Homo sapiens: one gene and its partner. The protein of the gene in region 2 purifies or fractionates together with the protein of the main gene of each other region. This does not show direct contact. Each region holds a gene or a part of one and is shown on either strand. Other genes may lie near its edges.

Region 1 (5,993 bases), on a different chromosome or scaffold from region 2:
ATGCCTTGGGTTCTAAAATGTTATAGGAAACTGCTGAATTGAATCCTAGCTTTTAGAATATTAATAGGAGACTCAAAGTTAATATTCTTAACAACTTAAAATTAAAAAAAGTCATAATCTATCAAAAGTTTATTTATTGGATGGCATTAAAACATTTTTGAGGCAGTTGTCTAATATGAACAATAATCTAAACAATATATTCCTTAAATTAAGAGGAAAGACAAGTGTCGTATTTCGATCCTGTTTATTCAAATGTGTGATTTTGCTGAAATGAAAGGGATAAAATGAATACTTAGAGAATAATACTTCATTTTTGCAGTACTTTTTAATTTTGATAAAAAAGATACAAAGTTCATAATATCAAAATATGTGTTCAAAATTGGTATTTTAATTTTAATATTTTTGTAAGTTGATTTAAATTTTGCTCTTTTTTCAGGTGTGCTTGGTTTATTATATTTAGTCAAGTTAATTTAGTCGAATGTGGTAACATTTTTCTGATTTATCTTTAGTTGGAGCACACCCTTGAACTGAACAGTGGCCAAAGGAAAGCTTTCTGGGCTTTGGAAAGTAGTTGTTTAACTTTGTTTTAAGCCGTTTTCTTAGTGATTCTGTATCAAGTAGAGGATAAGTGTAGTTTAACTTAGTTTTTAATATAACCCATAATCAAGAACATGAGCGAAAAGCAGACATAAATCGATATGGATGGTTTGTGGTGTGTGTGGGATGTGGGGGAATTAAGAAAATGCCATTTACCTAAGCACAGTTTGCCTGAATTTCTGCTTGGTTGTGTTGTTTACCGTAAGTACTGAGGGTAGTTTCCCTAAGTCTGTCCTGAGAAAAAGCATACTTAGTACTCCTGTATTTGTTCTTATGAAATGACTATCTGCCTTCTTGTATCTAGTAAGATTGGCTGGCTCAATTTTCTTCTGTCAAATTATATGGTTATTTTTTATATTACCACATCAGCATTATATTAAAAGTGTTTTTAATAGTTGATTGTATTTTGCCAACTACTAGTATAGACTCAAATTTGCTATTTAATTTTTAAAATACAATTTATTTTGTAAATCCTTTAAAAAATATTTGGTTAGTTTTGGATTAGAAATGATTTATGTTAGCCATGTGTTGAAGATGAAATTGGCATCAGTGTAGACGGTGCTGATTGGGAAAAGTTCATGATTAGGAAATTCATGTAAGACTTTTTAAGAGTATTTTTTAGGTTTTCACTCAATCTTTCCTGTCACAGTAACGTGAAAACTGATTATTCTTTACTCCAAGAGAATGTTTTAACCCAAGCAAGTATCTAATACTAGAGCATTGGTTCTGACATTCATTGTAAATCAGTGAACTGTAAGATACTGTCTAAAAAATGTACATTTGTAATTAGTGCCTTTATTCATATTTTGAAATAAGTTCTTAGTTTTATATTATACCTGTTCTTTAGAAGTCATGTTAGCAGCTAATTATTTCAGTGATGAAATAATTTGTGTTTTATATCCCCCTTCACCTCCATGTATTGGTTAGCACAGTTTATAGTAAGTGAAAAGCAAGGGACCCACCTACATTACCTTCAGGAGACTGTTCTACCTTTTAATTTGAAAACAAGGAAATTAAATTTTAACAGAAATCTTTTAAGTATGTTATAACCAAAGTGTTCAATTATCCTTGCAAGTTCAAATACAGCATTTTTCTTAATTTTGAGCGTGTCATGTCCTTCATCTTTAAACCCATCATTCTTATTGAAGCCCATTTGAGAACTCTTAGAATTAATAGAACCTTTTATAAGGGAATATATGGAATATTTTTTATTGTTAATGTAACTTAATTCCTTAAAACCTGGAATATTAATATATATAATCTATTAAAAGCTGAAGATTAAATATGTAATTTTTGCTTTTAGTTTCTTGTGTTAGTATGCTTAAAGGTATCAATACTTTTATTCTATATTCATTAGAAGAAAGGTAATAAATTTAAGTTTCATTGCTGAAAAATTTTAAATGAGTGCCACCCCATAGCCATAGTCATTTTGATTAAGCATAATTTAACTTTCATTATAGCATAAAGAGAAAATAATTATTTTAGTATGGAAACAGTGATAGGCAGTGCTGTAAACAATATTCTCTGAAAAGTTGTGGGGGTCACAAAGAAAATTTTAAAGAATATAGAAGCTTTTTTAAAAAATCTTTTTAGTGTAGTTTCTTAGAACAAATTATAAACATAATCATTCTGAATAATCAATTTTTATTTAGTCCTTAACTATGTAAAACCGTATCAGTAGAAAAATGTGCTGGTGTCGTGTCTAAAGATGGATAAATTTCTTTGGAATTTATCTTTGGAGACCAACTTTATGAGGCAGACTTTTTGTCTACAGCTTTGGAACCAAAAAAACTTCACTCTAATTCAGTCCTAAAGGCTATTTTACATTTTGCCGGGGTAAAGTGACTTCAAGATACAGCATGGTGTCTTGTATCTAGTAGAATATTGTGCTAGCCATCTAAAAAAGTGGATTTGAGCCTTAATTTGGCCGTTTCTCAATTGTCTAGTTGACCTTAGACAATTAGTGTCCATGGCTTTCCTTTTGTTTTTCCCATACTGAGGAACTTAAACTACAGCTCTAAAATGTCTTTTGGTTTTAAAATTCTGAATGCTTATATACTACTATTAAAAATTAAAAATCCCTCAAATAGTAGGGCAATACAGGTAATATGAAATTAAATGTATTTTTATCCATTATTTGATTCCCACCTGTTATTTTATTTAGAATACGAATACAACCAAGTAGGGAAAAACGTATCAGTAACTGCTATTCAACTTAAATTCAGCGAATTAATAGCTGAATAGAAATAGCTAATGACAATGCAAAAGAGAAAACAAGCCATATTGCTAAGAAAAGGATAGTAAGCTGCTTAGAAAGAACCAGCCTGTGTTGGAAATAATTCTCTTCTAGATAATTTACCTTATTTTCTTGGCTTGTACTAATTGAATGGAAGTGGTTAATTTGTTCAGAGTTTATTGCCGTTTGATGCCACCCCAGTCTATAGTTCTGTGTGACTTTCCATATTGAAAGAGTAGGGTTAGTAGCCAGGTTGTCAGTCTTTTACAAATGTCTACATAAATGTCTACATAAATCTGAAAGTGGTTTATATTCAAGGTTAGTTTTTCAGTAGCGTCTCCTCCTTATTCATTCACTTTTACTGTGAAGACTGAAATCCAAAAGCCAGGTTCCCCAAAAAAGTATTTTTAAAAAATTTTAGGGGACCAAAATAAATAGAGGAAGACCAATATAAAAAAATATGTTCAACTATTCCATTTTAAATTTAAAGCAGAAAAAAAAATTGTGCCCCTCAGACCTAAAGGCAGCTTTAAATGTATATAGTTTGGTGAAACATTTGGGAAATATTAATTTGGAGGTTTAGAAGCATACGAAAAACAAATTCAAAGCACTTGAAAGTAAAGACAATATCATGAGGTCGAAAAAACTTCAAAAGGATATTAGGTAAGAGAAAATGTGAATGAAAGCAGTGAATTTCTGCCTCTCCTCGTATTTAGGGTACTTAAAATTACTAAAAAATACTGTCTTTTTACCATACAGCTAGATGGCCTGTATTATTCTTAATGTGGCCAAAGGAGTGAAGACTGATTAGGGTTTTAGAATTTGGAACTGTAGTCACATAAAGGCATCTTTTGCATTTCTTAAACCAGTAATCTACATTTTCTCCTGGAAATGGAGAAATATGAAATGTGCTGTGCATAGCTTTTGGAATAGAAAACAAAGTTTTAAAAGAATGGATATGTTTTCTTGCACAACTTGTAAAATTTTAATTAAAAAATTACCTCATTTTTCAATCCATAAGGTGCTTTGCTCAAGTTTGTGGGATGTTTGTACCATCCCATAAAAACCCCCTTCACCCAAACTGTATTTGAAATATGCAAAATTCATAACTAAGGGATAGCATTCCTTGGAGACTTTGTTTTGTTTTACTCTTGTTTACCAGCTGGGCCAACATGGTAGATATATGAGATTCACATATGGTTTCATTAAAGCACATAGGAAAGTGCTCAGTCAATATTTAATTAGTTTAATTAGATAAGGGAAAGGAGAAATCCTAAATTTGATGGATTCTTTTATACTGTGAATATATTTCCATCAGTGTTGGTAAGATATCAAATGACTATCAGTTGATCCCAGTCATCAGTGACTTATTTGCATATTTAAGCCCTATTCACAAGAGACCATAATCATTTTAATCTTATATTTTCCCTCAGGAAATTTAGGGACTCTGAAGCCCCTATTTTATTCTCTTGGAGTAAACTGTTGAGTGTAGTTACAAAAACTTTTATTTATGACTTAAAAAAAGTTTAGCTGCTATTTCAGTGAAAGTGTAAAATAAAACGGTCATGATTTTTTTCAATTACAGAATAGTTACAAATTTTACCATGTTCATCTATTCCACAGAGCATGTTAAAAACAACAACAACAAAAACCTAACAGCAATTACAACCTTGGTGTTGCGTTTATTCTAATCAGAGTGAATGATTATAATCACACTTTGCTATTTTAACATAAATTGGTGCTTTAGAGCATTAAAGAGGAAGCAGCAGGCCCTGTACTCAGTATTTATTATTTCTTGCCTCAGAATGCAAAACAACTTTAAAGTGTCTATATTCATATATATGTGCATTTCTTAAGATTTAAATACAAACTGTTGTTACTCCTTAAGCTTCAGGCTTTCTGCGAAAGCTCTAAGAATATCTTCATTACTATGCTTGGTCAACTGGAAGATGGTATTAATAAGGTCAGAATTAGGAATTGGATTGCTCTGTGGGTCCTCCGGTATTGTGCAGAGGAAAGAAAAATGTCTTTCACACCACAAACTGTGTGTCTGAACCCCAGCCAAACAAATGTGTTCCATTGGTCCAATATATAAGCATTAACAACAACAACAAAAAATTTAAAACAAGTAAATTAATGCATTCACATGATCACTTCTTGAAAATGGTTCAAAGCATGTTTTCCTGATGGTGGGATTGTTTAAATGACATGTTTTAAAGTTTTTAATACTTTATTAGTTATGAAGTGCTTCTTTTATATGTTAAGTTTAGGTTGCCAGTACTCATAATTTTTATTTCTGCAATTATGTTATAATGAGTTGTTTGCATGCCTACTTAACCCAAGTAAAACGATGCTGTTTGCTCTGGAATGTTCATCTTTTAGACAGGTTTTGGCTCATTTCCAATCATGGTGCAATATAGTGTAACATTCATTTGTTTTCATTCAACAGTTTTATTTTTGTCATAATAAATAATTACTTTTCCAATACGAAGTGAATCCAGTGTTTTCTTTTAAAGGTAAATCTGCTTTAAGTTATTTGCTTGCAAATAATAGAAACCCACCTATGCCAACAAAGAGAGGATAATTGGGGTGAGGTGGTGGAGGCTCACAGAACCCACGGAACAACTGGATTTGTAGAACAGACTGAGACTAGAGACTGGACCATTTAGGAGCAAGCAGGAAGTTACCTTTTTTCCTGCTCATCTGTTTCTGTCTTTCACCTGACTGGATTTCTCTGTTTCCTGATCCACATAACAGATAATGTCCCAAGTCCAGTAGCCTCCTAAATTTGTACAAGGGAGAAGTCAGATTATTGTTAGACTTTCAATTACAATTCCATATTCCCCAGGGAAATTGTTCATTAGCCTGCATTGGGTCATTTCCTCTCTCTGATCTAAACAACTGGCCAAGTGGAAGGTGCATTTACCAGAGAAGGGGAATCCCTGGCCTGGGAAGGTGATCCGGATTGGTGTGTACTCCATTGTGGGGTATAATTGGGATCATCTACCAAAGTTGTGTCCTTGTAAAAAATAAAATAAAATTGAGATCTAATAATGAGTGGGATAACATTTTCACTATGTTCATTCTTCACATTCCTCTAAAGTGGTTTTAACTCCACCGTTTTTGCTCACAGACCTCTTTGGGAATGTGATAAAAGTTG
Region 2 (7,284 bases):
CAGCCTTACCCCAATCTTTTAAACCACACCGGAAGCTATGTACTCATCGTTTTTTTCCTGTAATTTTTTTTACAGTACAACCTAAATAAATACTGGCCCAGAAAGATTCAGAGTTCAAAGAAAATTCAGCTGCTTTCGGAAAGATCATTCTATGGGAAAGATCACATTTCTGAGTAATAAACATTATAAATACATATTCCGATTTATTTTTAATTCTCAAACTATTAACTTTCATTTTTCCCCTCTGGCATATTTTAATTTTTGTCCTACAGGGACTTGAGTCTAAATATGTTTTAACAATTTGGGGGACTTTTCTTTTTTCACCTTGCTATTTCTAGAGACTAAAATCTTTGAGCTACCAAGGTCTTTCAAACTGGCTGATGTCACTCTAACAAACTCAGAGATAGCAAGATGTTCCTTAAGCCACTGGGTTAGAACGAGAATCCTTTGTTTTCTATGGGCACAATCCTAGGAATGTTTCTTCTCTTTTTTTTGAGACAGAGTCTCTCTCTGTCACCCAGCCTGGCGTGAAGTGGTGCCCTCTCAGCTCACTGCAACCTCCACCCCCCGGGTTCAAGTGATCCTCCTGCCTCAGCCTCCTGAGTAGCTGGGATTACAGGTGCACGCCACCACACCCTGCTAATTTTTGTATTTTTAGTAGAGACAAGATTTCACCGTGTTGGCCAGGCTGGTCTCAAACTCCTGACCTCAGGTGATCCACCCGCCTCAGCCTTCCAAAGTGCTAGGATTACAGGCGTTTGCTACCGTGCCCGGCAAGCCTAGGAATATTTCACTTCATGCTTTTCTCTTTTGCCTTGCTGTGAGCTTATCCTCCAGAGACAACAGAGAGAGAGAAAGAGAGAGAGACAGGAGAGAGAAAGTGGAAGAACCACATGACCAGTCATTTCCCGAAGCAAATGGCGTTTTGGGTGAATGCCCTGACCTAGGAGGGAAAAAGAGGCCAAGGTTACCCTAATGTTACAGAAGTAGCTAAGTGAATTCTTCTCCGAAAAACGTCACAGCAGGCTCTAGAAAGCAATTAGAGTAATATTTTGGCACCTCGAACTACCAAATAGAAGATTCCTCTACTGCTCTAGTTACATCTTTGATTTTCATTTCCCTTTGTTGTAAATACTTACAATGTCATTTCAGAATGCTGCAGAGAAATAGATGTGAGAGTAAACAAACTATAATAATAATCCTTTCTCCACATGCCATGGCAGCTGCAGGAGGAGGCCAACGCAGCACCGAACTTGCCTTACTGTCTGCTTTTCCTGTCCTCCTCCTCCTGCACCTCCTTCACCTCCTCCACCTCCTTCTCCTCCACTTTCCCACATGGTCTTTTATAAATTTGCCAGCATCACTGTGCAGTTTGCCAGAGAAACCTGGCCACTTGCTGGGTAAGCCTGCTCTTAGACCAAGGACCAGGGTAGGTCACTGCTGCTGTCCTCATTTCTGGGCCAGAAGGATTCACTGAGAGTGAGGTCCAGAACCACCTGCTTTCCCATTACAGAGGATGTGGATCTCTATAGAGACACTGCGTATCCCTTCAGTTAAAGCTCTTCGAAGACTCTTTTTACCCTGCGAGCTGAACTTTCTTGAGCCCCATAGAATGGATAAAAATCTTCATCCCCAGGTTGGTGAGGAGCCAATGATTTCACGCTCAAACAAGCTGACAAGCTAGGAATCCTAGCTTTCCTTAGCAGGCAGGAAACAGCATCCCACTCATAAGTCAGGAGTCTTTTCTGCCAATGTTAGGAATGTTGATATTTACCTTTATTTTTGGACTTATTTCTAAAAAAAATTAACTAGTATGTAAAAAAAAATCACACTTTAAAAATATGCTTCTACAATATTTGCTCTAGCGAACTATCTTTAGCTTGACCTAAATTACTAATTAAACTTTTCTATTGATCCAATTCCCATTACTGTTCCTGCCTTTATGCTTTCATATTCGGAAATCTCCAACATGCATTTTGATGGCTCCACCCCCCACGTTCCTCACTCCTGCCCCCTCATTTTGGTTTTGCTTTACCTTGTTAAGCACTTACAGATCATAAAATATGGGTGAGCTCAGAATATCTCTTACTCCAGTGTTACATATGGCACCCGCATTTCAGCACCAGCCCTTTAAAAAATGGTGCAGAATTTCAAGGAACTCAGCTACACTTTCCATTCAAAATCCCTCCCAAGCACTGTAGCTAAGAGCCTATCTCAGGATTTTCTTGAGAGCTGCTGGGGAGGCAAAATATCTATCTAACGAAAATGGCTCATCATCCACATTCTGCAGTACTGAGACTAATTCCCCAGCACTGCCAAACCTAGACTGCTGAACTCCCTCATCCAAACTCTCTAAGACTTAGTGGTCAAAGTGCCAAAGGCATCCGTCTTACTCACACTCTGTGGCTCCTAAGACCATGCTGAAAAGTGAGGATAAGTAATAATTGAAAGACATTTTTAGGATTCTAGTTGGGAGGATACATAATGCAGATACTATATAGTTTTTGTTTGTTTGTTTGTTTTTTGAGATGCTGTCTCACTGTGTTATCCAGCCTGGAGTACAATGGCGTGATCTTGGCTCACTGCCACCTCCGCCTCCCAGGTTCAAGTGACTCTCCTGCCTAGGCCTCCTGAGAAGCTGGGATTACAGGTGCCCACCACCACTCCCAGCTAATTTTTGTATTTTTAGTAGAGACGGGATTTCACCATGTTGGCCAGGCTGGCCTCAAACTCCTGACCTCAGGTGATCTGCCTGCCTTGGCCTCCCAAAATGCTGGGATTAAAGGTGTGAGCCACTGTGCCCAGCCTACTATATATTACTGAAGTTAGTAATTCATATTAATGCAAAATAAAAGGAGATTAGTGAATCACTGCTACGTCTGTCTTGTTTGGCCTGACAAGAAAAGTATCATAGAAGAGAAGGTGTGTTATGGGCATTGGATCAGCAAATAAGCTGAGGTCAAGCTTCCCTAAGTACCCACCAGCTCTGAAGGGGAAGTGACAGCTTGTCTTTGAGCCAGATTTAGGTTACATTTCAGTCTTAATTTATATCTAATCCATATCTAAACATAGAGAGAAATAAAATGCATTAGATTTCTGAGCCACCAAAGCCTGTTTAAAGGAAGACGGAGGAGGAAGGAGAAGAGGGCAATGACTTAGGGGCAAGTAATAGAAGGATTTGTTCTTTTATTTTATGCATTCTTTTATTCAACAAATATGTTTTGACAAGTAGGGGATACAGTGAACAAGGTAACTGGTTTTCTGTCCTTAAAGACCTTCCAGCCAGTTGTGGTGGCTCATGCTTGTAATCCCAGCACTTTGGGAGGCCAAGGCTTGTGGATCACCTGAGGTCAGGAGTTGGAAACCAGCCTGGCCAACATGGTGAAACCCTGTCTCTACTAAAAAAAAAAATACAAAAAAATTAGCTGTGCATGGTGGTGCACACCTGTAATCCCTGCTACTCAGGAGGCTGAGGCAGGAGAATTGCTTGAACCTAGGAGCCAGAGGTTGCAGTGAGATGAGATGGTGCCACTGCACTCCAGCCTGGGTGACAGAGTGAGACTGTATGAAAAAACAACAAAACAAAAAACCTTCCTGCCCTGTGGGAGCTACAGAGGAATAAGCAGTACTAATGTAACAATGCAGTGTCACTGGGACCATGTGCTGTGTTGTGGGCGCAGGCTCAAGAGGAACTCAAACAGCTTAGATTTTAGCCATTCCGAAGAAAGCACAGTAGCAGCCACTGGAGTCTCCGCCGTGTTCCGGGAAGCATGATCAAACATATCTTGAAAAAATCTAAAGCAGACTTCAGATTTGTTAGAAAGCATTCCTACCGCTCTCAGTAGTGACTTGGAGAATCTACCTCTTCATAGCTAAGGCTATAACAACATCAACAACAACAACAACAAAACACCTCTTTGGGTTGTCTTCACAAGTAGTTTCCAATTCAGTAGAGCCAATCCTGCAACAGTATTGGCATCATCGCAGTGCACTCCAGTGACGCAAATGGAAAGACTGCTGCTGGTAAACGAACTACCTGAATTTGAATTCTGGCTATACCTCTTCCTAGGTCTACGATTTTTAACAAATCAGTTAACCTCTGACCCTCAGTTTCCTTGGCTATAAAATGGGCATAATGAAGGATTGTGAGAGTTACCTGAGTAAAGTGCTTTGAACGGTGCTGCTCAATAATGTTATCCCTCTGAGAAGACATCGAAAGTTTCCCATAAGAAAAGGGCCTTTGTTATTCCAATTTGGATACTTTAAGCAGGCAAAATAGAACAGTAAAAGGAAAACAAATGTAAAGGGATGCTGTTTATGAAATAGTTGTGAAGAATAAGCACTTCAGAGGAGCTTAATTTAACTTCTCAGCTCTGCTAGAGTAAACATTGTAACCAGACTAAAAACCTTTCCTTTGTTCCTGCAGTTATTAGAGAAAGGAGGAGGCCAGAGAAGTCATATCATTTCACTTCTCTGAACTTCACCCTGGATTATTTAATGTTGACAGGCATTCGGGATGTATAGAGATTAAGGACACAGACTCTGGAGCCTGGTGCTGGGATCCAAACCCTGATCCTGTCACTAACTAGCTATGTGACTTGGGGCAAGTTCTTCAACTTCTGTACACCTCAGTTTCTTCATCTATGAAATCACAATAATAAAAGTACCTATCTCAGGTATTTTTATATATGATAATTTTTTTTTTTCCTTGAGATGGAGTCTCACTCTGTCATCCCAGCTGGAGTGCAGTGGCGAGACCTCAGCTCACTACAACCTCCGCCTCCCTGGTTCAAGCGATTCTCCTGCTTCAGCCTCCTGAGTAGCTGGGATTATGGGCGCCTGCCATCACACCTGGTTCATTTTTGTATTTTTAGTAGAGACAGGGTTTCACCACGTTGGCCAGGTTGGTCTCGAACTCCTGACTTTAAGTGATCTGCCTGCCTAACCCTCCCAAAGTTCTGGCATTACAGGCGTGAGCCAACGCGCCCAGCCTGTGTATGATGATTTAAATGTGTAATGTACTTAAAGCTCTTAGAACCATGCCCAGCAATATTAATGCCATTTAAGTCATAGTTATTAGAAAAGCTACTGTTATTAAAGAATAATGCAAGGAATTGTTCAAATGCATATAATCATAAAATAGAGAGTCAAGGCTGGGCACAGTGGGTGGCTCACACCTGAAATGTCAACACTTTGGGACGCTCCCTTGAGCCCAGAAACTCGAGACCAGCCAGGGCAACATAGTGAGACCTTGTCTCTGCAAACAACCAACCAACCAAACAAACAAACAAAAATAACAACAACAAAAATACAGAGTCAAAATGGAACGGTCTTGTCAAAGTTGGTAGTCACTATGCCGTTAGTTTCATGAAGATAAAACATGGTTATTTTGTTCCTACTCTATTTGTTGAAAAATGAATGAATGAGGCATGAAAGACTTGACTAGTTTGATGTTGAGAACTTAGCAAAAAGGAAAGCACACGAGATCTGGAAGTGAAAACCCAAAACATGAGTCCTGGCTTAACCTCATTCTAATTTGACAGGTGATTTACCACAGGTACTCAGTTTCCTCATCTTTGAAAGAGGGAAGTCAGAGGGAGAATTTCTGAGGTTCATTCCACATCCAAAATTCTGCAGCGTTAGATAGCCTTTCGAATTTTACAAAAGGTAATGTAATCATGGCTATGGAAGTTTTTTTCACATACCTTGTGTATTTCCAAAAAGGATTATCGAGTTGGAGACAATGTCATTTGTTTGCGTTTTCTAAATCATTATGTAAGAATCTGAGCCACAAACAGAACAAATCTTTAAATCCATGAAAATGGATTACCTTTAGCTGGACTGACAACTTTTAAAACTCTTGGATTGGGAGAATAAAACTGATAAGGACATTTTTCCATTCATCTTAAATGAATTTTTGGAGACTCTTAAGAGTAAAATATAATCCATATACATCTAATGCTAATTTATCATGAACACTTAAAGAATGAAAGTAGAACTCTTATCCAGTTTAGTTCAGCAATTCTCTGCTAAATGAAATTAAGCTGCTTTAGTTGAGCTTTTAAAATATGAGGATGAGAAGCATAAATCCAAAGGATTTTGTAGAACTAGCATCCGGACTGTCTTTCTTCAGATTATGTTCCTAGAATCTGGGTTCCCCAGGGCAGCCTCTCATTACTGTCAGTATTAAGGACTAGAAAGGAGCTGGAAGAGGCTTGGCCGCTTTTATAGGTTTTTGGTAGTGGCATAAAGATTTCACTTGGTTGGGGGAGGGGGGTAGGGGGACAGAAGAGTCTGTTGTGGAAACTAAAAGAAAAGAAGGGGAGAGTGGTCTGAAATCAAAAAGTCTGGATTACGTATACAAGCTTTGAGTTGAACAAGGTTTAAATTTTAGCTCTGCTACTTTTTAGTTATGTGACCTTGGGCGAATGGTTTAATCTCTCTAAGTCACACTTTGCACATTTAATAATGTTTCTTACCTTATAGGGTTACTGTGAATATTAAATGAGCTAATACATGTAAAGCATTCCTACCCAGAACATAGTCAGCTCTAATAAATAGTGACTGACAGACAGCTACAAGGGCAGATAACCTATATTCTCCTTCAGTTTCTTATGCTCCCTCTGGAATGTCTCAGAAGCATAGGAAGCACTGTTTAAGCCTCCTGCAATCAAAAATCATTCTTTTTAATTAGCCCTAATAGACCCTATGGTTTTTTTTTTTTTTTTTCCAAAATCTATTCATAGTTTAATGTGGGCTATGGACAAAGGTTCACTTTGTAAGACTGTCTAGCTAGGTTAAAAATAAAATATGCAGAAATGTGTGGAACTTCAACAATAGAATATAAGAAAATGAATTATTCTGAACTGCAAACAAAGGCATTGTAGTATATGAATGTGTATGTGAAGTAAAAGTTTGGAAAGTATAAACATCAGTATGGTAACAGTTACTACATCTGGGAAAGGGAGAAAGATTGGAGAGGAGGTGGGATATACCTTATTATTGTTTTAATGTTTTATAGATGTATTTACATATTGTTTAACTAAAAACAAACAAACAAAAAAAGCAAAGTCATGTACAAGCAGAAATAAACATTTAGAATACAGAATTTGTGGAATAAACCAAAGTAGACAAAAATCAAAGAATTTATCCCTGGGGCATTCAATGACTTGATACAAGGTCACCTTCTACTTAGTTAACTGTCCTTGAGGAGTAAGGAGAGCGCAGGGGCAGGAGAGATGTCTGATCCTGTCTCCAGCAACTGATAGACCCAGGTTAGAAGTT

The links.
Region 1: the proteins of SGK1 (region 2) and ARL5B purify together in Homo sapiens (affinity purification with mass spectrometry; 2 studies listed by BioGRID and IntAct, with this or other methods). This does not show direct contact.

Annotation. Positions count from the first base shown.
Region 1 is NC_000010.11:18,676,320-18,682,312, forward strand, and holds the end of ARL5B (ADP-ribosylation factor-like protein 5B), read left to right. Parts: 3' UTR 1-5,320; downstream 5,321-5,993.
Region 2 is NC_000006.12:134,308,081-134,315,364, forward strand, and holds part of SGK1 (serine/threonine-protein kinase Sgk1), read right to left. Parts: intron 1-7,284. UniProt on the Homo sapiens protein: Serine/threonine-protein kinase which is involved in the regulation of a wide variety of ion channels, membrane transporters, cellular enzymes, transcription factors, neuronal excitability, cell growth, proliferation, survival, migration and apoptosis.